Linked DNA regions of Homo sapiens. The protein of the gene in region 1 interacts with the protein of each later gene in a pairwise test. Each region holds a gene or a part of one and is shown in the gene's direction. Other genes may lie near its edges.

Region 1 (7,000 bases):
AGTGAAATCCCGTTTCTACTAAAAATAAAACAAAAAAATTAGCCAGGCATGGTGGCAGGCGCCTGTAGTGCCAGCAACTCGGGGGCTGAGGCAGGAGAATGACGTGAACCCAGGAGGTGGAGCTTGCAGTGAGCTGAGATCGCGCCACTGCACTCCAGCCTGGGCAACAGAGCAAGATTCTGTCGCCTCCTGCCTCAGCGTCCCAAGTAGCTGGGACTATAGGCACCCGCCAACATGCCCGGCTAATTTTTTGTATTTTTAGTAGAGATGGGGTTTCACCGTGTTAGCCAGGATGGTCTCGATCTCCTGACCTCGTGATCCGCCTGTCTCGGTCTCCCAAAGTGCTGGGATTACAGGCGTGAACCACCACGCCCGGCCAAAAAAAAGCAAATCTTAAAGTGAGCTGTGATAAGTCTGAAATAATTTTCATTTAAACCTATGTCAATATTAATACGTTTTATAGTAATTTTATGAACTTTAAACATTTTTATATCGAGAAGTACCATTACTCAGAGAAAGACTAATAAAATATTTGTGGTAATGATAGTGGTTATATCTTAAAAGACTTATGTTTTGTGTTTCTGTTTTGTGATTTTCAGAGGCCTAGATTTGAGCTACAGTGAATGTATTAATGTAGATATGTAAAATAGCATGGAAAATGAAAGCAGAATTCTGCATCTTTTATTTATTTTTCTCTCCTTTGAATTCCTGGTTATTTCTTTGCAGTCACCCCAAACCAGAAGGCCTGGCTGCTGCCAAGAAGCTTTGTGAGAATCTTTTGCAAACAGTGAGTTGTATTTGTCTGATACTCATTCAGAAGAGCAATTGCCATTTTGGAGTATGTCTTAGCTGTTTCTTTCACCTGTTTAGTTTCCTAGTACTGCTATAACAAGTTATGGCAGTTGGGTGGCTTAAAATAACACAAATTTATTCTATCACAGTCCAGGAAGCAGAGTCTGAAATCAAGGTGCTGGCAGAATTGGTTCCTTCTGGAGTCTTTGAGAGAGAAATCATCCCATGCCTTTCCTCTCTCCTAGCACCTGGTCATTGTGTTGGTTTTCTTTGGCTTGTATTAGCATAACTCCAGTCTGAAGTAAGGGTAGAACTATAATAATTTAAAACCAGTTAGACATGTTTGGGGGATGATTGCTCATTTGATTATGCATTCTTTTTATTCTATAAACAACCAAAAGTTAAACCTTAGGACTGTCTTTTTTTTTTTTTTCTGTCGCCCAGGCTGGAGTGCAGTGGCGGGATCTCGGCTCACTGCAAGCTCCGCCTCCCGGGTTCACGCCATTCTCCTGCCTCAGCCTCCCAAGTAGCTGGGACTACAGGCGCCCGCCACTACGCCCGGCTACTTTTTTGTATTTTTAGTAGAGACGGGGTTTCACCGTTTTAGCCGGGATGGTCTCGATCTCCTGACCTCGTGATCCGCCTGCCTCGGCCTCCCAAAGTGCTGGGATTACAGGCGTGAGCCACCGCGCCCGGCCAGGACTGTCTTTATAGCACTTAGAGGAAATCAGGTTTTGCACTGAATATGTTCAACCTTGTGTTCTCTGGTGCCTTATTGGGTAGCTCATGGTTGGTTTTTTTGTTTGTTTTTTTACTTTTGTACATAGCACCTGATTTACCAACCCTTGTACCGGATAATTTTCTTGACTATTTCCCATCTTTGTTGGTACTTGAGGTTATGGACTTAATAATATATAGGAAGGAAGTATGAGGAAAATACGAAACCCTTACTAAATGTGAGCTCCTTGAGGAAAAGTCACCCAGTAAATGTGAATGAATTGAGGTCTCACCAGTTATACTAACAACTTGGAAATTTCCTAGTTACTTAATTTCTGTGGCTTTCTAAATGATTCTGTACCCCAGAATTGAGTATGGTTTAGGGGATTCAGGATTATTCTCCTAATTCCCAAAATTGGCTTAATAATTTATAGATTTGCCTTATTAAAATGTTGAGGTGGGTTGGACACGGTGGCTCATGCCTGTAATCCCAGCCCTTTGGGAGGCCAAGGCGGGCAGATAATGAGGTCAGGAGTTCGAGACCAGCCTGGCCAACATCGTGAAACCCCCGTCTCTACTAAAAATACAAAAACTAGCTGGGTGCGGTGGCACGCGCCTGTAGTCCCAGCTACTTGGGAGGCTGAAGCAGGAGAATCGCTTAAACCGTGAAGGTGGAGGTTGCAGTGAGCTGAGACCATGCCATTGCATTGTACCCTGGGTGACAGAGTGAGACTGTCTCAAAAAAAAAAAAAAAAAAAAGATTTGCAGTGATACAAGATCGCGCCACTGCACTCCAGCCTGGGTGACAGAGCAAGACTGTCTCAAAAAAAAAAAAAAATGTGGGTTAAACAAGTTTAAATTTGATTGGAACATTGGTAGATATATTTTAATTCCTAATGGCTTTGGTCCTAGAATTATGTAATCAGACCCTTGTAAATGCACAGCTTCGGCTGTCCCATGTTAATTTGTTTCCCCCTCTCTTTCAGGTTCATGCTGAATACTCTAGATTTGTGAATCAGATTAATACTGCTGTACCTTTACCAGGTGTGTACATCTTGAAGTGTTTAAAAAATATTTTGCTAGTGATAGTTATGTGTAACTATGATACTTGAGGCTAGACTGTGCCAGGGCACTATTAATGTTCCCTTTAATTTAGGGTAATTTGGAAAGCCATTCATGCCTCAGTATTTTTCTTCCCTAGATATTAAGTTTAATATTCAGCTAAATTGTCTCATTCTGCTGCAGCTGATTAAACACTTTTTTTCTTCCCCCTCAGGCTATACACAACCCTCTGCTATAAGTAGTGTCCCTCCTCAACCACCATATTATCCATCCAATGGCTATCAGTCTGGTTACCCTGTTGTTCCCCCTCCTCAGCAGCCAGTTCAACCTCCCTACGGAGTACCAAGCATAGTGCCACCAGCTGTTTCATTAGCACCTGGAGTCTTGCCGGCATTACCTACTGGAGTCCCACCTGTGCCAACACAATACCCGATAACACAAGTGCAGCCTCCAGCTAGCACTGGACAGGTAGGATGTCAGGATATGCAACAACATATTACTGAATTTAGGAAAAACTGGGGAAAGAGGGGAAGTAGTGGTATTCCAGAAATAAATCATGTGATGTGGAATGTCTTTTTCCTGCTGTCTTCTGTGTTCCTACCACCAACCTACCTGAATATTTTGGATTAGTGTGTATGTGTGTATGTCATCCTGAAGTTTATATTTTCACAAGTCTTGCACACCAAATAGCTGTTTAAAGTGGGGATGGTGGGCACACTTGCTATAAAGGGTCAGATGGCAAATATTTTAGGCTTTAAGGGCCATACATTCTCTGTCACAACTATCACACTCGGTGGTTGTAGTGCAGAAGCAGCCCGTGGATAATACCTCAATGAATAAGCATAGCTGTTGTACTCCAGTAGAACTTTATTTACAAAACAGGTGGCAGGCCACAGTCATAGTTTGCCATACCCTTGGCCATTGTTTGCCTAACCTTACCTTTGCAGTGTTAACAAAGTCCTCAAGGAGAATGGGGCTACCTTCACCACACCTCTCAGTAATTGGAACTGAGTTAGCATTTCAAATCTTAGAAGGAAACATAATCTCAGCATCTGGGGAGGCCGAGGCAGGATTGCTTTAGCACAGTTTGAGACCAGCCTAGGCAACATAGTGAGACTCCATCTCTACAAAAAAAATTAACTGGACATGGTGGCACATACCTGTATTTCAGCTACTTAAGAGGCTGAGATGGAAGGGTCCCTTGAGCCTAGGAGGTCATGGATGCAGTGAACCAAGATGGTGCCAGTGCACTCCAGCCTCAGTGACAGAGTGAGACTGTCTCAAAAAAAATTTTAAAAAGCAACATTATGTAAGAGATATATAAACTTTTCAAATGTAAGGATTATAAATGCTGGTATGTTTCTTTTATAACTTAAGAAATGTATACTTAAAAAAATTTTTTTTTTGAGACAGAGTCTCGCTCTGTTGCCCAGGCTGGAGTGCAGTGGCGCATCTCAGCTCACTGCAAGCTCCGCCTCCCAGGTTCACGCCATTCTCCTGCCTCAGCCTCCCAAGTAGCTGGGACTACAGGCACCCACCACCACGCCTGGCTAATTTTTTTGTATTTTTAGTAGAGACGGGGTTTCACTGTTAGCCAGGATGATCTCGATCTCCTGACCTCATGATCCAACTGCCTCTGCCTCCCCAAGTCCTGGGATTACAGGTGTGAGCCACCGCACCTGGCCACAATTTCTTAAATCATGAAAGTAGAATTTTAGGAAAAGAGTAGATGTCTGGATAATAATCTGGATGGATTATATATACTGGTCTTGGAGGCAGGGGAGAGACTTAATGAGAGCATGGTAATGGATTTATGGTGGGTCCTTCTCTGTGGGCCTCTCATAGTGTACCCATGCCATAGCAAATGGCAGCCTCGAACCATTGCCCAGTCCCCTTACCTGTGGGCTGTGAGCACTGAAGGGGGTTGCACAGTGTGTAACAAAAAAGCTATGAACTAAATTTTATTTGTGGTCTCTAGTCAAATTTATTTTATTTTATTTATTTATTTTATTTTTGTTTATTATTATTTTTTGAGACAGAATCTCATTCTGTCACCCAGGCTAGAGTGCAGTGGCACCATCTTGGCTCACTGCAAGCTCCGCCTCCCAGGTTCACGCGATTCTCCTGCCTCAGCCTCCCGAGTAGCTGGGACTACAAGCGCCTGCCACCATGCCTGGCTAATTGTTTTGTATTTTTAGTGGAGATGGGGTTTCACCTTGTTAGCCAGGATGGTCTTGATCTCCTAACCTCGTGATCCGCCCACCTCAGACTCCCAAAGTACTGGGATTACAGGCGTGAGCCACCGCGCCCGGCCTAATGTTTGTATTTTTAATAGAGATGGGGTTTCACCATTTTGGCCAGGCTGGTCACAAACTCCTGACCTCAGGTGATCCGCAGCCTCGGACTTCCAAAATGCTAGGATTATGGTGCAAGGATTACAGGCATAAGCCACCGTGCCCAGCCAAAATTATTTTAATTTTTATATTTAGACAGCTCTGTAGGTCTCTACTTTTGAAGGTCAGTCCTTTGTAATTGGGAAGCAATACAGCAGAGTGGTTAAAAGCAGGGAGTTAAGGCAGCCGCAGTGGCTCATGTAGCTGTAATCCCAGCACTTTGGGAGGTTGGGGCGGGTGGATCACTTGAGGTCAGGAGTTCAAGACCAGCCTGGTCAACATGGTGAAACCCTGTCTCTGCTAAAAATACAAAAATTAGCTGGGCGCGGTGGCAGGCATCTGTAATCCCAGCTACTTGGGAGGCTGAGGCAGGAGAATTGCTTGAACCCAGGAGTCAGAGGTTGCAGTGAGCCGAGATTGCATCACTGCACTCCAGCCTGGGTGACAAGCAAAACTCAAAAAAAAAAAAAAAAAAAAACTGGGAGTTAGAATTAGATTGACAGGGTTGATCTTGCTTTCCCATTTTTGAGCTGTGTGATATTGGGATGTAACTTGCCCTGTCTAGGGTTTGGTTTTCCTTAGATGTAAAATGGGCACAGTGATAAAAATCTCAGAGGTTTGCAAGGATTAAGTAAGATGATCCAATCTGTCAGTAAACGTTAGCTGTGTTATTAATACAGTCAGCCACCTTACAACGTTTTAGTCAGTGATAGACTGCACATATGATGCTTGTCCTGTAAAATTATAGTAGCATATTTTTACTGTACCTTTTCTACATTTAGATACACAAATACTTACCATTGTGTTACAGCATTCAGTACAGTAACATGCTATACAGGATTGTAGCCTAGAAGAATAGGCCATATCGTATAGCCTAGGTGTGTAGTAGGCTATTTTCATCTAAGTTTGTATAAGTACACATTTGTTAAATGACAAAATTGCCTTGCAGTGCATTTCTCAAAACATATTCCCACTCAGCGTAGTGGCTCACACCTGTAATCCCAGCACTTTGGGAAGCTGAGACAGATGGATCACAAGTACAAAAAAAAATTAGTTGTGCATGGTGGCACGTGCCTGTAGTCCCTCGGCAGGCTGAGGCAAGAGAATCGCTTGAACCTGGTAGGCAGAGGTTGTAGTGAGCCGAGTTGGCACCATTGCACTCCAGCCTGGGAGACAGAGCAAGACTGAGACTCTGTCTCAAAAACAAGACAAAACAAAACACGTATTACCATTGCTAAGCAATGCATGGCTGTATAGAGTTTTCTCTTCAGACCTGCCTATTCCTCTGTAATATATACTGTCTTCTGATACCCCTTATTCCTTTTTGGAACAACATCTTCAAACATTAGACTTAATCTTGACATAGTAGCTTAGTGATAACTAAGGGAGTGGAAGATGAAATTGCTTCTTCCACAAGCATTAGCAGCATTTATAAATAACAGAAAGCTTATTACAGAAAGCTAATCACATCGACTGTCAGTGGTTGGAGTTCTGTTTGTTAATGGTCATGTTTACTCCTAGTAGCCCAAATGCATAACAGAGTTTTCTTAAAAGTTCAAAGCACTGTATATAGGTTGTCAATTTCATGTTTCCCTAGGATGAAGGTGAGAAGGCTTAGGTGATAATGTTACCAAATTATACATGAAGGAAACTAAGGACCTGAAGATGCAAAATTCATATGATACTTATTGATCCTTAAAGTATATTGTAATCATTGTTTACTTATTCCTTGGGCATTCTCACACTTTTTTTCTTCCTTGGTTTGTTTTGGTCCCAGAGTCCGATGGGTGGTCCTTTTATTCCTGCTGCTCCTGTCAAAACTGCCTTGCCTGCTGGCCCCCAGCCCCAGCCCCAGCCCCAGCCCCCACTCCCAAGTCAGCCCCAGGCACAGAAGAGACGATTCACAGAGGAGCTACCAGATGAACGGGAATCTGGACTGCTTGGATACCAGGTTAAATAAAATACCCTGTTTTCCTATCTTCACCTTATTCTTCTACTATATTCTCCCTTTAAAAAAGATAAATTCACATCATTCT
Region 2 (3,588 bases), on another chromosome or scaffold:
TCATGACGCCCTGCTCAGCCATGTGCTGGAGCTGCAGCCCCATGGGGTGGCCTTCCAGCAGGCATGGACAGGGCGTGGCGGGGGCAGTGTGTGGGCCAGGGCATGGCAGGGGCAGTGTGCGGGCCCGGGCATGGCTCCAGTGCTCACACCATCCTTGTCTGGCAGGATGTGGGGCTGTGGCTGCTCTTCACCCCACCGCAGGCCCGGCGCTGCCGTGAAGTGGTGGTCAGGACCCGGAATGACAACAGCTGGGGTGACCTGGAGACCTACCTGGAGGAAGAGGCACCCCAGGTGAGGGCCACCCAGGCCTGCCGGTGGCGAGTGGAGAGCTGCTGCCCTGAGCCGTGCACCTCTGCCCAGAGCCTCACCCTGGCACCTTCCACCCTGCCCCGTCCCTCCTGGATCCTGCTTCCCTATGTCCCTGGCACCTTCCACCCCACCCCGTCCCTCCTGGATCCTGCTTCCCTGTGTCCCTGGCAACTTCCACCCCACCCCGTCCCTCCTGGATCCTGCTCCCTGTGTCCCTGGCACCTTCCACCCCGCCCCGTCTCTCCTGGATCCTGCTCCCTGTGTCCCTGACTGGCTGTGCCCTGACCCAGGCTCCTGTGACCTCCTCTCTCCCCCATCCCAGCGGCTCTGGGCTCACTGCCAGGTGCCCCACTTCTCCTGGTTCCTTGTGGTTTCCCGCCCTGTGTCCAATGCCTGCCTGGTGCCACCGGAGGGGACACTGCTGTGCTCCTCGGGTCATCCTGGGGTCAAAGTCATCTTCCCCCCTGGGGCCACTGAGGAGCCTCGTCGAGTCTCCATGCAGGTATGGCCAGGACAGCACTGAGGGTGGCAGGCCGCGCCTCAGCCCACAGGCAGGTGCTCAGGGGGCCTGTCTGCCCCAGGTGGTGCGCATGGCTGGCCGAGAGCTGCAGGCCCTCCTGGGAGAACCAGAGGCTGCAGTGAGCCCCCTGCTGTGCCTGTCACAGAGCGGTCCCCCCAGCTTCCTCCAACCGGTCACCGTGCAGCTGCCTCTGCCCTCTGGCATCACAGGTGAGAGGCAGCCATGGGGCATACCTGGACCTGTGGCCATAGGGTGGAGGGGGTCTCCGGCCAGGAGGCCTCAGCTCGCTGCCCCTCCCATCCCCAGGCCTCAGTCTGGACCGCTCCCGCCTGCACCTGTTGTACTGGGCCCCTCCTGCAGCCACCTGGGATGACATCACAGCTCAGGTGGTCCTGGAGCTCACCCACCTGTACGCACGCTTCCAGGTCACACACTTCTCCTGGTCAGTGCCCCCCAGCTTTCTCAGCCCCCCTCCCCCAGTCTGTACAGCCCTCCTCACCCCCAGCTCTCCCAGGTACTGGCTCTGGTACACCACCAAGAACTGTGTGGGAGGCCTGGCTCGGAAGGCCTGGGAGCGGCTGCGGCTGCACCGTGTGAACCTCATCGCTCTGCAGCGGCGCCGGGACCCTGAGCAGGTCCTGCTGCAGTGCCTGCCCCGAAACAAGGTGGGGGCACGGGCCGGAGGGCAGCAGGGTGGTGACCAGAGGGCTGGGGTGGGGTGCAGAGCTTTGGGTCCTGAGCTGCACGGGCTTCCCCGCAGGTGGACGCCACCCTTCGGCGGCTGCTGGAGCGGTACCGGGGCCCCGAGCCCTCTGACACGGTGGAGATGTTCGAGGGCGAAGAGTTCTTTGCGGCCTTCGAGCGCGGCATCGACGTGGATGCTGGTAGGGATGCTGGTGGATGCTCCCTGCCCTGGAGGGGGAGCCTTACCGTCCTCCCCGAGCCCTCCTTGCTCAGCCCACCCCTGTCCCCTAGACCGCCCTGACTGTGTGGAGGGCAGAATCTGCTTTGTCTTCTACTCGCACCTGAAGAATGTGAAGGAGGTATACGTGACCACCACTCTGGACCGGGAGGCTCAGGCTGTGCGGGGCCAGGTGGGCGAGGGGAGTGGGTGAGGGGAGAGGCCCCCCAGGCCGCTTGGGCAGAGGACCGAACTCCGAACCCCATTCGATGCCCCTTCAGGTGTCCTTCTACCGTGGCGCGGTGCCTGTGCGGGTGCCCGAGGAGGCTGAGGCTGCCCGGCAGAGGAAGGGCGCAGACGCCCTGTGGATGGCCACTCTGCCCATCAAGCTGCCGGTGGGACTGAGGGACAGCAGAGGGGCGGGGCAGGACCGAGGCCCAGGGGTGACCAGGGTGACATGGTGGAGTTGGGGGTGGAGCCCAGGGCTTAATGCACTTTTTCCTTCCAACAGAGACTTCGAGGGTCCGAGGGGCCACGGCGGGGGGCTGGCCTCTCCTTGGCACCCTTGAATCTGGGAGATGCCGAGACCGGCTTTCTGACGCAGAGCAACCTGCTGAGTGTGGCTGGGCGTCTGGGTCTGGACTGGCCAGCCGTGGCCCTGCACCTGGGGGTGTCCTACCGGGAGGTGCAGCGCATCCGGCACGAGTTCCGGTGAGGCTCCCACTGCCCGCTGGCTGCCAGCCCCAGGGCTGAGCCCTGGCTGCCTGGAGGGCCCACCTGATTCTGACAGAAGTTTCTTCCAGGGGAGGTGGGGGAAGGGCAAACACCAGGCTGGAAAGGAAAGGTCTGGCCGCACCTGGCCCCAGGAGCCGGGAACTCCCCCACACTCCGAGGCAGAGTGTGGTGGGGGGTCCTGGGCAGGTGGACAGGACCCCTCTGTCGCCCATCCTCTGCCTGCAGGGATGATCTGGATGAGCAGATCCGTCACATGCTCTTCTCCTGGGCTGAGCGCCAGGCTGGGCAGCCAGGGGCTGTGGGGCTCCTGGTGCAGGCCCTGGAGCAGAGTGACCGGCAGGACGTGGCTGAAGAGGTGCGCGCAGTCTTGGAGCTCGGCCGCCGCAAGTACCAGGACAGCATCCGACGCATGGGCTTGGCCCCCAAGGACCCCGCTCTGCCTGGCTCCTCGGCTCCACAGCCCCCAGAGCCTGCCCAGGCCTAGGCCCCACAGACTTTTAGGCTGGCCCAGATATTCCCCAGTGGATGGGCAGAGCCCCCACCTTCAAGTCTCTCCAGTGTGTGGGGACGGGTCCCTGTGAGCAACAAAACTGCACTGTTTCTTTCACCTCAGAGCTTGATTTATTTGTTGGATGGAGAAGCCGTTGGAGGGCGGAGGGTGGTGGGGTAGAGGCCTGGCCCCTGCGGGGAGGGAGGCCTGTGTGCACAGGTGCCCCACATCCTGGTCCTGTCCTCTCCCACTGTGCCTGGGGCCTCCTGTGGGTCCTCATCTTCCTGGGAGGGAGGAGCTGTGCTACAAAGTAACCCACATGGGCTACTTTTTTTTTTTTTTTAAATGGAGTTTCTGTCACCCAGGCTGGAGTGCAGTGGCATGATCTCAGCTCACTGCAACCTCTGCCTCCCAGGTTCAAGCGATTCTGCGTCACCCTCTCAAGTAGCTGGGACTAGGGCACTTGCCACCACGCTGGCTAATTTTTGTATTTTTAGTAGACGGGGTTTCACCATGTTGGCCAGGCTGGTCTCGAACTCCTGACCTTAAGTGATCCGCCTGCCTCGGCCTCCAAAAGTGCTGGGATTGCAGGTGTGAGCCACTGCGCCCAGCCCCAAGTGGGGTGCTTTGGAT
Region 3 (7,817 bases), on another chromosome or scaffold:
AGTCTGGTACTGGGAACCTTTCATCTCCTCATCTCTGTCAGTCCATCTACTTCCTGCTTCAGATGAACCAATCTTTGCCAGACACGGGGGTAGGGAAGCTTCCCCACTTGTTTGACCCTTGCAGCCTCATGTGTCTACCCCACTTCCTATCTCTAGGAGCCAGAGCCAGGATTTAAGCGCCTGGCTTGGGGCCAGCCTGTGGGCCTGAGGCATACAGGCTACGTCATTGAGCTGCAGCATGTTGTCAAGGTGAGAGCCAGCTGCAGCCTTCCTACTGCAGTGCCTGCTGGGGCCAAGATGTGAGTATAGCCTGCAGTCCTGGTTGTGGTTCCCGGGTCTAATTGCTGCTCCCCTCCCCCCACTTCCAGGGCCCCAGTGGTTGTGTAGAGAGTCTGGAGGTGACCTGCAGACGGGCAGATGCTGGAGAGAAGCCAAAGGCCTTTATTCACTGGGTGTCACAGCCTTTGATGTGTGAGGTTCGCCTCTATGAGCGACTGTGAGTGAACAGAGCTGGGGTGGGGGCAGGTACAAGATGCACATTGCCTGCTATGGCTGCCCAGCTGGGGGTATGACCTTCACTTTGGCTGCAGATTCCAGCACAAGAACCCTGAAGATCCTACTGAGGTGCCTGGTGGATTTTTAAGTGACCTGAACCTGGTAGGTTCATGAGGTTTGGGGTGAGGGAGGTAGGCCTCCCTGGTTGGATGGTTGCCTGAGTTCCCTGCCTGCAGGCATCACTACACGTGGTGGATGCAGCATTAGTGGACTGCTCTGTGGCCCTGGCAAAACCCTTCGACAAGTTCCAGTTTGAGCGTCTTGGATATTTCTCCGTGGATCCAGACAGCCATCAGGGAAAGGTGCTTGACTTTACTCACCTGCCCTCATCTGCAGCAGTGACAGTGGCTGCCGTTCATTGTGCCAAGTGCTCTGCATACATTCCCTTAGTTAATCCTCACCACCTGAGGGAGTTGGTATTCATATTCTACTAGTGAGGAAACTGGCACTGAGGATAACTCCAGGCACAAAATTTTGTATGAAGGCTGCCTTTTTTTTTGAGACAGTCTTGCACTGTCGCCCGGGGCTGGAGTGCAATGGCACCATCTCGGCTCACTGCAACCTCTGCCTCCCAGGTTCAAGTGATTCTCCTGCCTCAGCCTCCCGAGTAGCTGGGATTACAGGCGCCTGCCACCACACCCGGCTAATTTTTTGTATTTTTAGTAGAGATGGGGTTTCACCATGTTGGCCAGGATGGTCTCGAATTCCTGACTTCATGATCTGCCCGCCTCGGCCTCCCAAAGTGCTGGGATCACAGTCATGAGCCACTGCACCCGACCTCTTTTTTTTTTTTAATTATTATTTTTTGAGGCAGGGCATGGTGGCTCACACTTGTAATCCCAGCACTTTGGGAGGCCAAGGCAGGCTGATCACCAGAGGTCAGGGCTTACCACCAGAGGTCAGGAGTTCGAGACCACCCTGGCCAACATGGTGAAACACCCGAAAGATATTATTTTTAATATCTTTCGTTAAGGCAGCTAATAACCTTTCTTTTTATTTATTTTAGAGACGGGGTCTTACTCTTGCCCAGGGTGGTGTGAAGTGGTGCAATCATAGCTCACTGTGGCCTCAAACTACTGGGCTCAAGCTATTCTCCTGCCTTAGCTGAGACTACATGTGCACACTACCATGCCTGGCTAATTTTAAAACTTTTTGTAGAGGCAAGTTCTCACTATGTTGCCCAGGTTGGTCTTGAATTACTGGCTTCAAGCAGTCCTCCTGTCTCAGCCTCCTAGAGTGCTGGGATTATAGGCATGAGCCACTGTGCCCAGCCACCCTGCCATCCTTTTTTTTTTTTTTTTCTTTTTTTGAAACAGTATCTCGCCCTGTTGCCCAGGCTGGAGTACAGTGGCACGATCTCGGCCCACTGCAACCTCCGCCTCCCAGGCTCAAGCCATTCTCCTGCCTCAGCCTTCCAAGTAGCTGGGATTACAGGCACATGCTACCACGCCCGGCAAATTTTTTTTTTTTTTTTTTTTTTTTTTTTTTTTTTTTTGAGACGGAGTCTCACATGTCGCCCAGGCTGGAGTGCAGTGGCACAATCTCGGCTCACTGCAAGCTCTGCCTCCCGGGTTCACGCCATTCTCCCGCCTCAGCCTCCCAAATAGCTGGGACTACAGGCGCCCGCCACCACTCCCAGCTAATTTTTTCTATTTTTTAGTAGAGACGGGGTTTCACCGTGTTAGCCAGGATGGTCTCGATCTCCTGATCTCATGATCCGCCTGCCTCGGCCTCCCAGAGTGCTGGGATTACAGGCGTGAGCCACTGCGCCTGGCCTAATTTTTGTATTTTTAGTAGAGACGGGGTTTTGCCATGTTGGCCAGGCTGGTCTTGAACTCCTGACCTCAGATTATCTGCCTGTCTCAGCCTCCCAAAGTGCTGAGATTACAGGCGTGAGCCACTGCACCAGCCCACCCTGTCTTTCTTACTCCTTAAAGTAGGGGGCAAACATGGTGGTTGTTATAATCCATATAAAACTATACCCTGGACCCCCACGGTGGTTGTTATGGTCCATATAATACTATAGCCTAGAGCCCCATTCAGTCCCTTACCCAAAGTCACAAAGTTATTGAGGACCCGGGCCTCCTGACCCTTAGTCCCTCGGCTTCTTTGGCTTAAGAAGGATGTTAGGGGGAGGTGTCTGTGGTGAAACCTGCCCAGGCCTCCCTGGCCTTGTTCTGGGTTGGTGGTCATCCTTTTCCCTCTGCCCTCCAGCTTGTCTTTAACCGAACTGTCACACTGAAGGAAGACCCAGGAAAGGTGTGAGCTGGAAGCACTGAACCTACCTCATCCTCCTGGAGGGTGTGGCTACCCTCGCCACCCCAAATTCCATGTCAATAAAGAACAGCTAAATTCTCCTAGAGTCTGTGTGTTATCTCTGCACTTCTAGCATCTGAAGGCCCTGAAGACATGCTGGTGGTGGTGGTATGATTGGGGGATGGAGATGTGCCTTTTGCACATTTTGTCTGTGAGAATGGACTTTCCCAGAACAGAGTGGTACTGACAGCTTTGAAAGCACCGGTGCACTTTTTGGTGCTTAAAGGCAGGGGCCTGGGTAGGATTCATACCCTCCGCACCTGGTCTGAGAGAATGGAGGGCCCTGGGGTGTTTGTCCATGGTTAGGACCCCTGTGCCAGAGGGATCTAAAAGGTTTGTTTCTGCTGGTGTGGAGAGGCCTAGCTCCCAGTCTGATCATTCAGCATATAATTTTTTTTTTTTTTTTTTGATACGGAGTTCCACTCTAGCCCAGGCTGGAGTGCAGTGGCTCAATCTTGGCTCACTGCAACCTCTGCCTCCCGGGTTCAAGCGATTCTCGTGCCTCAGCCTCCCAAGTAGCTGGGATTACAGGCGGGCGCCACCACTCCTGAATAATTTTTGTAATTTCAGTAGAGACGGGGTTTTGCCAAATTGGCCAGACTGGTCTGGAACTCCTGACCCCAGGTGATCTGCCCGCCTCGGCCTCCCAAAGTGCTGGGATTGCAGGCGTGAGCCACTGCGCCCAATCAGCCTATAATTCTTTTTTATTTTTGAGACGGAGTCTCACTCTTGTCCCCCAAGCTGCAGTGCAATGGTGTGATCTCAGCTCACTGCAACCTCTGCCTCCCAGGTTCAAGCAGTTTTCCTGCCTCAGCCTCTTAAGTAGCTGGGATCACAGGCATGCACCACCACACTCGGCTAATTTTGTATTTTTAGTAGAGACGGGGTTCACCATGTTGGCCAGGCTGGTCTCAAACTCCTGACCTCAGGTGATTCACCCGCCTCGGTCTCCCAAAGTGTTGGGATTACAGACTTCAGCCACCGTGCCCGGCCCATTCGGCATATAATTTTTGAGTGCCTACTACGTGCCAGGCAAAGTGAGATGGGGCATACGTGCTGTGGTGGCCTTCCAAGTTCACGGGAGGGGAAATGGGTGACCAAGCACTGTATGGGAGCGGTCTCCCTGGGGCCTGTGCAAGACTGGAAGAGGTTCCTGACCCAGCCTGGGCCTCAGAAAACATTACTCTAACGAAGTGACTTCTGAAGGGAATCACGAAAGACTACGGGGAGTTTGCCAGGATAAGAGGAACAAGGGCAAAAGCTCCGAGGCAAAAAGAGTCTACAGCAGGCTGGAAGCCCTCTGGGGGCAGTGTAGGCTGCTGCTGAGGCCCGAGTGTGCCTGCAGCTTTAACGCCTTCCACATTTTCCCTGTATACAAACACTAGGCTACCCGGGGGCCCGCTTTAAGGTGGACCCAACTGCGGAAGGCTGAACTCAGATGGCAGCAGACAGCGGGAGTACCAGATGCTGACTCCTCCAGGAGGTGAGCAACCTAGAGGCTTCCCAGGCAGGGCACGGCTGGGGACGCCAGGCCCAGGACAGAAGTTTGTGGGGTCCACCTTAAGCGAGAGGCCGAGCCTGGCCAGGCCCCGCCCCGCGTGGGCGTGCTCGACCAAAGGAGGCTCTGGCGGGCGACGGAAGGTGGGTCCAAAGAGCTAGCTTGGAGCCCTAGCCTTCCGAGACTCCACTACTAGGCCAAGCCACGGCCCTAGCTCCGCCCCACATGGAGAGGCGTCCATGGGCGGAGCGAGCCGCTCCATACCCTAGGATCCACTATCCGCTCTAGCGGCCAGAAGCGCGGCCACCTTCCCCTGCTGAAGCGTTCACTTTAATTTTGGCCGGTAGGCAGTCCCAGATCTCGCGGGATCCGACGCCCCGATTATCGCGAGAGGAGCAATCGGCTCCTATTGGCTGTGAGGGTTGAATGTAAGATGGCGCCCAGGGAGCTGTGAGGAGAAAACCCTGTCGGTCTTGGAGCGACGACGGCAGAACCAGGGTCCCTGGCGGTGCGGCGGGGCCGGCGGGTGCAGCGGAGGCGGCGGCGGCGGCGGCAGTGACGTCGCCGGGTGAGGGCTCCAGTGCGGGTGGGGATGCGGCGAAGCTGTAGGCCTGAGACGGGGGGCCCACCCCACACAACGGCGGGCGGGGGCGGGCGGGCCACTACCGCTGGGCCCTGGAGAGTTCGGGGCGGCTCCGGAGCCGAAAACGTTCCTGGGCTAGCGCACCCCGCCCTGTGGATGGGGGAGGGGTGGCCCGGGGATTTGGGTGGGCGCGGCGCGAGATGGCGCGCCGGTGCGGGCGCGCGGCTGAGCCTGTTTTTACGCGCGCGCGCTGTGCGGCTCTCGGTGCGCGTGGCCGCCGACGTGCGCGTTCCCGGCCCGGATATCTCTGCTCTAGGAGCTGTGGCCCGTGGGCAACCGCGGCTTTCTGGAGCGCGCGCCCGTGACGACCCCCAGTTTTGGGGCGCGCGCTCTGATATCGGGTGGCGGTGCTGCCTCGAGAGCGCGCAGGAGGCTTCTGCTGAGCAGAGGGCCGGCCGCGGCTCGTTGCGCTGGGAAGGTTGAGGATTGGGTCCTTTCTGGTCTGGTGACGTTCCCGGGCATCCGTGGCCTCGGCCTGGAGAGAAACCAACCAGCTTTGCTGTCTGGCTTGCGGTTCCGCTCCTCTGTGAGGGGGGCGAGATTGCCCGTTCTCCTCGAAGAATGCCGTTACTTGAGGCCCAAGTACGGTGCGGGTGCTTGGGTAGGGTGTTTCTCTGCTTCGGAAACCAAGCCCTCTTGGTTTGAGAGGGCAGTGAGCCCCTTCGGATTTCCTCACCTTGTACTGGGCTTTCTGCCGGGCAGGGAAGGTTAATATTAGAAGGCCCTTGAGTGGTACCTGCTTATCTTTCATTAGAAACTAATACGTCCATAAGCGTAATTCATACACGTCACCTCTGTGCGCTCCGGAAGGGAATTCGCTTATGTGGCCCATGTGAACTCCGAGCTCTAAAATGCCAGTTTAAATCCTTAAACGCAGCTTTTCTTTTGCGTAAGTGGGAGGGGCTTACTTTATTATATTAAAGGCCCACCTTTGCCTCAGCCAAAAAGTTGGCCTTAAACAAAATGGAACAACCTGAGAATCAGTGCTTTACCTTTTTTGAAATTGCAGAAATCCCAGCAGAAATTACTAAAATCTGATAGTGTATCACTGTAAAAGTCACTTTTGGTGTAGGATTTCAGTCCTTTTCAGCTCTTTTTTTGACCCTGCCGCTGTGTTTTGGTGTCAAGGAAGTTCTAGGTTTGTTCTAGAGAAATAGGCACCTCTTTTTTCTAATACAAAACATCTGCTAGTTTGATTTACAGTCTTGCTCAATTAAGCTTAAGGAATAGGAAGCTAAGAGGAAGTAAAATTAGCCATCAAATTTGATAATGGTGGGGTAGTTCTTTCTAATGTACTGTATTGTTTTTAAGAACAAAGTTAAAATTATTAATAAAAAGAGGCTGAGGATGGAAGGAACTTTTTTGTTCTATCTTCTTCAGAATATTAGAAGTCTTAAGAACTCAGGACAAGCAGCAGAAATACATGCAACATGGTGACTGGTGAGTTAAAATTGTTCATATCCTGGAAGTATCTGTGCACAGTTTTTTTTCTGGTAATACTGAAGCATTACAAATCCTGTCAATTCTGGGTGCTGTCTTCCAGAAACTATTAGGTGCTGTAAAATGAAGATGTGGGAGAACGGCATCTTTGAATTCAGCCACAGTTCGCTACTTGCTCAGTTTTCTCCTCTTAGGATATAAGTCAGTGGAACCCGCAGATTTAAGCGTTTGCAGGCTCAGCTTTTAAACGGACCTAAATGGTTCAAAGAAAAGCTGTAAAGTTTTTCTAGGATACACTTAAAATTTTGACTTTTTTTTTTTTTTTGAGACGGAGTCTCACTCTGTCACCCAGGCTGGAGTGCAGGGGTGTGATCTCGGCTCACTGCAACCTCCGCCTCCCTGGTTGAAGCGATTCTCCTGCCTCAGTTTCCCAAGTAACTGGGATTACAGGCATGCAGCACCACACCTGGCTAATTTTTTGTATTTGTAGTATAGACGGGGTTTCACCATGTTGATCAGACTGGTCTCGAACTCCTGACCTCGTGATCCACCCGCCCTCGGCCTCCCAAAGTGCTGGGATTACAGGCGTGAGCCACCGCGCCCGACCAAATTTTGATTAATTTTTTAGGCTTGCTTGTTCTGGGTTATCTTTATTTTTAACTATTAAGCTTGAGATCTTCCTTTTAAATTGGTGTTTATAAATACTTTTTCTCCAAGTTTGTCAACTAAGATTTACTTATTAGATGTCTTCCTTCGGGTCCTCTCTGATGAATTTTTCCTATAACTCTTCGAGAACCTCTGCAGTTCCACATCCTCTCTCCAGCTTATGTTGCCATTTCAAACTAAAGATCAAATAGTGGTTTAATTTTCTTGTAAATTTGAATTGCTCTAGGAAAGTAACCAAAGTCAGGGGCTCTGGATGTGGCTGCCTTTCTTTAAGGCAGCTTCAGAATCAGGGATGTCTTTCCTTACTTTGGATATGCTTTTTTTTTTGGATATGCTTTCTTTTAGTTTAATTAGTTGTGGTTTATACTTCATGTGCCATATTTCTTTCTTGTCTGCTTTTTAAATGGCCACTCTTGATCTGTAAGGGTCTCTGATTTCTGAATTAGCCTTAGAATTAGGTGTTACATGAATACCTGTTCTTTTCTTTTTATTTTTATTATTATTTTTTGAGACGGAGTCTCGCTCTGTTGCCCGGGCTGGAGTGCTGTGGTGCAATCTTGGCTCACTGCAACCTCTGCCTCCTGGGTTCACGCCATTCTCCTGCCTCAGCCTCCGGAGTAGCTGGGACTGCAGGCTCCCGCCACCATGCCTGTCTCATTTTTTGTATTTTTTAGTAGAAACGGGGTTTTACTCTGTTAG
Region 4 (7,639 bases), on another chromosome or scaffold:
CTGTCTTGTTTTTTATTTTTTTTTATTTTTTTTATTTTTTTGAGACAGAGTCGCGCTGTCACCCGGGCTGGAGTGCAGTGGCGCGATCTCGGCTCACTGCAAGCTCCGCCTCCCGGGTTCACGCCATTCTCCTGCCTCAGCCTCCTGAGTAGCTGGGACTACAGGCGCCCGCCACCACACCCGGCTATTTTTTGTATTTTAAGTAGAGACAGGGTTTCACCGTGTTAACCAGGATGGTCTCGATCTGACCTCGTGATCCACCCGTCTTGGCCTCCCAAAGTGCTGGGATTACAGGTGTGAGCCACTGTGCCTGGCCTTCCTAGCTGTCTTGTGAAACGATAAGTCAAAACCCTACTGCAGTGAGTTTTCCAAACTGAAGGGAGAAGCAATGTACAGAATGCCTGACTTGCCCTTACATCTTATACCTGGTGTTCTGGCATGATTATTAACCACACTCTTTTTCACTTTGAACCATGTCCTGGTTTGCATGGCCAGCTTCCCTGCAGAGGTGATAGAAACTGACTTGAGGCAGTTTCTTTCTCCATGCCTTAGTTAGATGACCCTCAAAGGGGCACAGCAGATTTCCCTGGCTACTGATACACCTTAACAAGAAGCTTGTGTTTTTTATGCCCTCAAAAGTGTTTTACTTATACTTTCCTAGACATAAAGGTGGAAAATGGGCCTAAGGTCTGTCAAAGGTCTTGGAAAAGAAGATTGTATTAAAATTGCTGTCCGTCTTCATTAAATAATACTAGATCGATACAATGCTTTCTTTACAGTATTAGTGGTTGGTGAAAGACTTCCTTCCTATTGTTACAGTATATGTATATATCTGTAAAATTAATGAGATATCCTTTAACTTGTAGATTAGAAAGCGACTAAAAACTCATAGGGGATTTACTAAAGAAGCAACAATGGGAAGAAGCAGCCGATCCTCCTCAGTGCACCTTTTTCTGTTGCACAGTACAGTGCACAGTGTGCTGGCATCACCATATAGGGCAAGCTGTGACCGCCTTTCTCCTTTCCCAGGGCTACATGGTGCCAAGCAGGTTCAGTGTACACTGGTTACCAACCTGTCTGATTCCATTGTGACAGAACACACTCACACCCAATACATTACATGAAGCAGATTTATTACTTACAGACAGGAAGCAAGGGACAAAAGAGGCCCTGGCTCCATTGTGAGCCAGTCCCCCAGGGCTCAAGAAAGCTGCCCAGGGCGGGGCTGATGGAGTCTTGATTGTACGTGCCCCACTTGCACCACAGCCTGCCTTGGGTTATATACCATAGGAGCCACATAACTCATTGGGCAAAGCTTTAAAGTACATCCTCCTTCCAGGGGAAAGAGGAACACAACCTCGCTGTCTCAAACAGTTCCCTAAATCAAGATGTTACATTCCCTAGGAGGGACAACAACAAGGCCAACCTGTTTCAGGCAGTTCCTCCATATCAGGATATTGCATTCCCAGTGCATTCTACAGTTATTCTTAAGAACTACAAGCAAGGAAGAAGGGAGAACTGGGTCAGTCCAAGGCCACCTGGAGAACTGTCTTGTACATGGGTTAGGGTAAAGTTGGCTATTCTAAAACTAAGCATCCGCCCAAAAGAAGTCTTGGAAGATGTCTTTCCCTGTTAAATTCAGATGATGGTAATTATAGTTTGGAAGTGGAATTGGCTTTTAGAGTTACTTCCTGTAATGAAATTAACAAGCAATTCAGGCCTATTTCTGAAAATGAATTCAGTGGTTAATTGTTAAAAATAAATGTCTAACTCCTATAAAAGGAAATTTACATTCATTTCTAACTCACTAAAAAATCTATGGCCGGGTGCGGTGGCTCATGCCTGTAATCCCAGCATTTTGGGAGGCCGAGGCGGGCAGATTACCGGAGGTCAAGAGTTCGAGAACAGCCTGGCCAATATGGTGAAACCCCGTCTCTACTAAAAAATACAAAAATTAGCCAGGTGGTTGTGGCATGCACCTGTAATCCCAGCTACGCAGGAGGCTGAGGCAGAAGAATCGCTTGAGCCCAGGAGGCGGAGGTTGCAGTGAGCCGAGATTTCTTAGAAGGAATTGTTACTTATTGTTCTGAAGTGAAAGTCTGGTCTGATTCAGAAGAAATGTTACAACAACTTAAACACTGATGCTTTCAGAACGGGCAGCAATTCTCAGCGTAAATTCTGATCACAGGGACCAGCAAAATTGGTGAGTTGCATAGCTACAACATTCTGTGCCATCCAGGGCACTCTAGTTTGGGGATACAACTGCCAAACCTCCAACTAGAGAGTTTAGTTTAAGATTTAGTCAAGAAGCAGAAAGGTAAAGGTGACAATGTGTAGTAAACCATGATAGATGTTATAAAAGGTGGAATACTTGTACTGGAAATGCATACAGCGCCTCATCCCCTCTTGAGGGGTCAGGAAGTTTTCACACTAATGATGATGGTGATGAGATGATGTAACAGCTAAAGTTTTGGAGGCATTCACTATTGCTAGGCACTGTATCAGCATATAACATGGCTTATCTTACTCAGTTTTCACAATAAAAGGGTTATGAGATGGGAACTATTATTACTATCTTGATTTTTACAAATGAGAAAACAGGAGTAGACATTAAGGAATTTACTCAAGATCACAGCCAACCAATGCACTGAGCTGGACAAGGTCAACTTGGGGGTGAAGGGCATATGTGTTGCTCCAAGTGTGTCAGTATAAGAGAGATTAGGGTGAGGTTTTATGCAGAGTTTGGGCTTCAGCTGAGTAATTCTAAGGAGGGATTAGGGGAAGGAAGGCAGTTTAGTAATTGAGTATCTCAGAAACTTTAATTTGGAGGAGAACGGAACAAAGGTAGGCCAAGGAAGCTATTCAATCACTCAAAAGATAGAGGTTATTAGTCATTTTACAGCTGTAATGCATCCTTGTGAGGAACATTTTTTGCTTGGCCTTGTCCCTGGCCTTGTATGTGTACATTACAGTCTGATTATTAGTTGGGATGATTTTTAGTTTCTCAATCCCTACTCTCATTGCCCCAGTTTAATTCCTCAACACCTCTCACCTAGATTATTGTGATACTCTAGTTTTATCTTTTAAATCCTTTATATTGCAAAGCAGAGTGATTTACCTAAAACACAAACACAACCACAATAAGCCTCTATTTAAAAAGCTTTCAACGGTTCACTGTTGTCTCTACAGAATGTAAACAGAGCGTCTTAACATGGCACACCAGGCCCTCCTTAACCTAGCCCTCCCAGCCCATCACAACAACTATATTCCTTGATATTCTCGAATTGCACTTTATTTTGTTTTGTTTTTTTGAGACGGAGCCTTGCTCTGTTGCCCAGGCTGGAGGGCAGTGGTGCCATCTCGGCTCACTGCGGCCGCCACCTCCTGGGTTCAAGCAGTTCTCCTGTTTCAGCCTCCAGAGTAGCTGGGACTACAGGCATGTGCCACCACACCCGGCTAATTTTGTATTTTTAGTAGAGACGGGGTTTCACCATGTTGGCCAGGCTGACGAACTCCTGACCTCAGGTGATCCACCCGCCTAGGCCTCCCAAAGTGCTGGGATTACAGGCGTGAGCCGCTGCACCCAGCCTCGAACTGCACTTTAAATTGGATAGCTGGGCGGGCGTGGTGGCTCGCGCCTGTATTCCCAGCTACTCGGGAGGCTGAGGTGGAAGGATTGCTTGACCCCAGGAGGTCGAAGCTGCAGCGAGTCGTGATTGCGCCACTGCACTCCAACCTGGGTGAAAGACAAGACCCTGTCTCTAATATATAAGAAATGAATAAATAAATAAATTCGATTGCCAAAATTCTTGCTGTTCCCAGCATATTCCACTTTCACCTTTCAGCGCCTTTGCTTATGCTGATCTGACTGTAACTGCATTCCCACCCTTCTCCTTCTGGGTAAAGGGCATCTTCTTTCCAAACTCAACTCTTAGCATCAGAAAGCTGTCCCTGATACTGCAGTTGAGTCGCATGTGATACTGAAAAAAAAAGAAAAAAGGAAAAAAAAGAGAGCTCTCCCTGAATCCCTTGGTGGACTATGTTAGGTAAACTTCATCTTTGCCTGCATCATATTATGTATTGGTTCTTCTCTGCCCCCTCGATTGTAAACTCCTCAGGGGCAGAGGTAACAGCTTTGCAGCCCTGGGAGTTAGGTTTGCTTAAGGGACCAGAACAGGTGTGACTGGCAGGGAGCGAAGTCTGGAGCTTTGTCTGAGGCGCTGATAGGTGGATCGGCGGAAGGACGCGGAACCTGGACAGGTCGGAAATAAAGCCGGGCGAGCAGCTCTGTGCGCGATGTGACTTCATGAGTGGATGCTGAGAAAAGCGGCAGAGTACGACTTTAACCGCCTAGCCACAACACGTCCTGCTAGGGCGAGGAGGGAGACAGTGATACAGCACTGGGCAAGTGCTGAAGCGACAATTACTTCTAGGGCGGGGTAAAAGCCCCAGAGTATTTTTGCTGGAAGGAGGTATTTATTTGAGCAGGGTTCTGGAAGACGAGCCGCCGAAGGGTACCTCCGGCTTTCCGTTTCAAGTCCCACGCTGGTGGAGGTTGCTCGGTACCCGCGCCTGCGCGTGCCCGTCTCGACTCTTAGGCCCGCCCTTTCCTGCCAGACCTGGAGGGGCGGGGCGGTGCCGGCAAGATGGCTGCGCCCGAGAAGATGACGTTTCCCGAGAAACCAAGGTAAGCGCCGTACGGGGAGATGAGCAGGCGAGCGGGCCGATCGTGGGCATGGAGGATGTGGTGGCAGGAAGAAAAGAGAAGCTGGGCCAAGCTAAGTGAGCCACCGCGGCAGCTCCATTCCTTCCTGGTGCGCGCTCTGGTGCCCTCCCCGGACTTGCACGGGCGGCTGTGGCTCAGGCAAGCGAGGAGAGGATCAGGTTGGCGGATGGAGAAGAACTGTCTGGGAGTGGGAGGATGAGGCGATGATAGATGGCTGTTCTGTAATTAAAATACAGGAAGCAAGGTTTCTCTCCTCAGCACCCGAACTATTTCCTTTCATTGGGCACAGAGGAGCGGGGAGCTCGGGCAGCGCTGCATTGTAGCCGCTGATCGTCGTGTATATGTCTTAATCTTCCAGCCACAAAAAGTACAGGGCCGCCCTGAAGAAGGAGAAACGAAAGAAACGTCGGCAGGAACTTGCTCGACTGAGAGACTCAGGTGATGGACTCTTTATTCTGTTTTCTGTGTTGTGAAATTGCTCTGTCCACTCCAGCCCTAACTTGAAGCCCCAGTGTCAGAAGGAAGTCAAATATTGTGTCGGAGGAAAAATAGCTGTGACTTCTGCCCCCAAGTAGTTATTTAGAAACACATGTCAGAAACAATGTTAACATACTAAAGGCAGGAAGAGGAAGTCTTGGTGAATGATCGCCCACTGATTCTGTGTAACTTATAAAGTATCTAATATTACAGTTGCAAGCTTCATGAATTACAGCAGCTAGCACAGTCCTTGCACACGTAGTAAGTATTCGGTGAATGTTTTTCTTCGTAAAACCAGCAGGAGTTGAAGGTATTAATTAGACGTTTTGCAAGTTTTTCTCAAACTTGACTAATATGAGACCCTTGGTTTACCCAAATTATTATGTTATTCAAATATATATCAACATAATACTAGTTATGAAGCTCATTTATTTATTTTTGAGACAGGGTCTTGTTCTGTTGCCCAGGAGGGATGTGCACAACCACGGCTCACAGCAGCCTCCACCTCCCAGGCTCAAGCAGTCCTCCCACCTCAGCCTCCCTAGTAGCTGGGACTACAGGCATTCACCACCACACCTGGCTAATTTTTTCTTTTCTTTTCTTTTTTTTTTTTTTTTTTTTTGAGACGGAGTCTCGCTCTGTTGCCCAGGCTGGAGTGCAGTGGCACGATCTTGGCTCACTGCAGCCTCCGCCCCCTGGGTTCAAGCAGTTCTCCTGCTGCAGCCTCCCGAGTAGCTGGGATTACAGGCGTGCGCAACCACACCCGGCTAATTTTTGTATTTTTAGTAGAGATGGGGTGAAACCCCATCATGTTGGCCAGGCTGGTTTCGAACTTCTGACCTCAGGTGATCCACCCACCTCAGCCTCCCAAAGTGCTGGGATTAAAGGCGTGAGCTACCGCCCCTGGCCCACCTGGCTAATTTTTAAAATTTTCGTAGAGACGGGATTTCACTGTGTTGCCTGGGCTGGTCTCGAACTCCTGGCCTCAAGCAATCCTTCCACCTCGGCCTCCCAAAGTGCTGGGATTATAGGCATGAGCCACCACACCTGACCTGAAGCCATTGTTTGACTATAAAACAATATATGGGCTGGGCGCGTGGTGGCTCATGCCTGAAATCCCAGCACTTTGGAAAGCCGAGGCAGATGGATCACCTGAGGTCAGGGGTTCGAGACCTGCCTGGCCAACATGATGAAACCCTGCCTCTACTAAAAATACAAGATTAGCTGGGCTTGGTGGCAGGTGCCTGTAATCCCAGCTACTCAGGAGGCTGAGGCAAGAGGATCAGTTGAACCTGGGAGGCAGAGGTTGCAGTGAGCCGAGATCCTGCCACTGCACTTCAGTTTGGGCAACAGAGTGAGATTCTGTCTCAAAAAACAAACAAACAAATAAAAATACATTTATAAATTATAAAACTAAATGAAATTACACATTCGGTAAAATTTAAATCTACATCAGGTAATGCTAGGGATGATGTGAAACTAATGCTCCTCACAATATGTATATGGCACTGATGGGAGTTTGGAATGCCTCTACTAATGTTGCCTTATAGTTATTTACCACTTTTTCTATGAAATTACTGTAGAACCTTTATTTGTACAGATGGTCATTTGACCTTCACATGGCAAAACCTAACATTTATGTATTAAATCTACCTGCTTAATGCAATAAAATTAGGACTTAGTTATAAAATTATGTAGTAGTTATAAATCCAGATGGGAGCACTGAAATCACACAGTAGTACTGGCTTATAATGATTGTCATCCGCATTATCCAGAATATGCTCATGAAATTATCCTAGACAATTCTTAAAATCCAGAGACCATGGCCTCAAGTAACTAGGATTCTTGGACCTTGAGAAACATAGCCATAGAGGTTTTATTTACCATTGGTGTTCCTGAGTAATTATTTTAGTGTCAGTACTGGGATATTTAGAATGGAAGGAGCAGTGTGTTTAACTGCAACCTGTGTTAGCATTTCTGTCTTATTAGTTGAAAACTCATCCACTAGAGGCAGAACAAAGCATCAGGGATAAAAGGAAAAGTAGAATAGGTTGGAGTTATTGAGGCCCTTATTGTACTTCGTCTCTCCCCCCTTGAAATTTTCAGCTACTTTACTTTGTTCATTTAATCTGTTTTATTCTAAATATTATATATTCTAAATTTGTTTTAACTTCTTTCTCTTTTTCTTTTCCTGCACTAAATCCTATAACAGCTGGTATTTGTATTGTTTTGATTTTTTTTTTCCTTTTTACTTAGCAAAATGTGTTCAGAATGAGCCTCTGTGGAGAGTCAGGCGAGTCATGTCCCATGGTAGTTTAGCCCATTTTAATGGACTAAATCCAGGTCACTGGTCTGTCAAGATTATGTAACTAATGGCATATCCAAGACTAAGCACCTGTCTCTGCACTTCTGCTCCTACTTTTGCCCACTCCAACT

The links.
Region 2: the proteins of KHDC4 (region 1) and PIDD1 interact in binary tests that used the Homo sapiens proteins (3 or more experiments, as listed by UniProt).
Region 3: the proteins of KHDC4 (region 1) and QRICH1 interact in binary tests that used the Homo sapiens proteins (3 or more experiments, as listed by UniProt).
Region 4: the proteins of KHDC4 (region 1) and ZRSR2 interact in binary tests that used the Homo sapiens proteins (3 or more experiments, as listed by UniProt).

Annotation. Positions count from the first base shown.
Region 1 is NC_000001.11:155,917,414-155,924,413, reverse strand, and holds part of KHDC4 (KH homology domain-containing protein 4), read left to right. Parts: intron 1-726; coding exon 727-787; intron 788-2,495; coding exon 2,496-2,553; intron 2,554-2,785; coding exon 2,786-3,039; intron 3,040-4,371; exon of another isoform or gene 4,372-4,505; intron 4,506-6,741; coding exon 6,742-6,915; intron 6,916-7,000.
Region 2 is NC_000011.10:798,668-802,255, reverse strand, and holds the end of PIDD1 (p53-induced death domain-containing protein 1), read left to right. Parts: coding exon 1-61; intron 62-165; coding exon 166-291; intron 292-631; coding exon 632-811; intron 812-890; coding exon 891-1,038; intron 1,039-1,135; coding exon 1,136-1,271; coding exon of another isoform or gene 1,272-1,343; coding exon 1,344-1,494; intron 1,495-1,589; coding exon 1,590-1,713; intron 1,714-1,804; coding exon 1,805-1,923; intron 1,924-2,011; coding exon 2,012-2,125; intron 2,126-2,241; coding exon 2,242-2,441; intron 2,442-2,690; coding exon 2,691-2,949; 3' UTR 2,950-3,072; downstream 3,073-3,588. UniProt on the Homo sapiens protein: Component of the DNA damage/stress response pathway that functions downstream of p53/TP53 and can either promote cell survival or apoptosis.
Region 3 is NC_000003.12:49,091,032-49,098,848, reverse strand, and holds the start of QRICH1 (transcriptional regulator QRICH1), read left to right. Parts: upstream 1-4,777; 5' UTR 4,778-4,937; exon of another isoform or gene 4,938-4,955; intron 4,956-5,238; exon of another isoform or gene 5,239-5,901; intron 5,902-6,392; exon of another isoform or gene 6,393-6,452; intron 6,453-7,817. Other genes in the region: QARS1 (glutamine--tRNA ligase), read left to right, coding at 157-249, 369-496, 591-657, 732-857, 2,770-2,820. UniProt on the Homo sapiens protein: Transcriptional regulator that acts as a mediator of the integrated stress response (ISR) through transcriptional control of protein homeostasis under conditions of ER stress.
Region 4 is NC_000023.11:15,785,850-15,793,488, forward strand, and holds the start of ZRSR2 (U2 small nuclear ribonucleoprotein auxiliary factor 35 kDa subunit-related protein 2), read left to right. Parts: upstream 1-4,634; 5' UTR 4,635-4,646; coding exon 4,647-4,687; intron 4,688-5,084; coding exon 5,085-5,164; intron 5,165-5,170; exon of another isoform or gene 5,171-7,639. UniProt on the Homo sapiens protein: Pre-mRNA-binding protein required for splicing of both U2- and U12-type introns. Selectively interacts with the 3'-splice site of U2- and U12-type pre-mRNAs and promotes different steps in U2 and U12 intron splicing.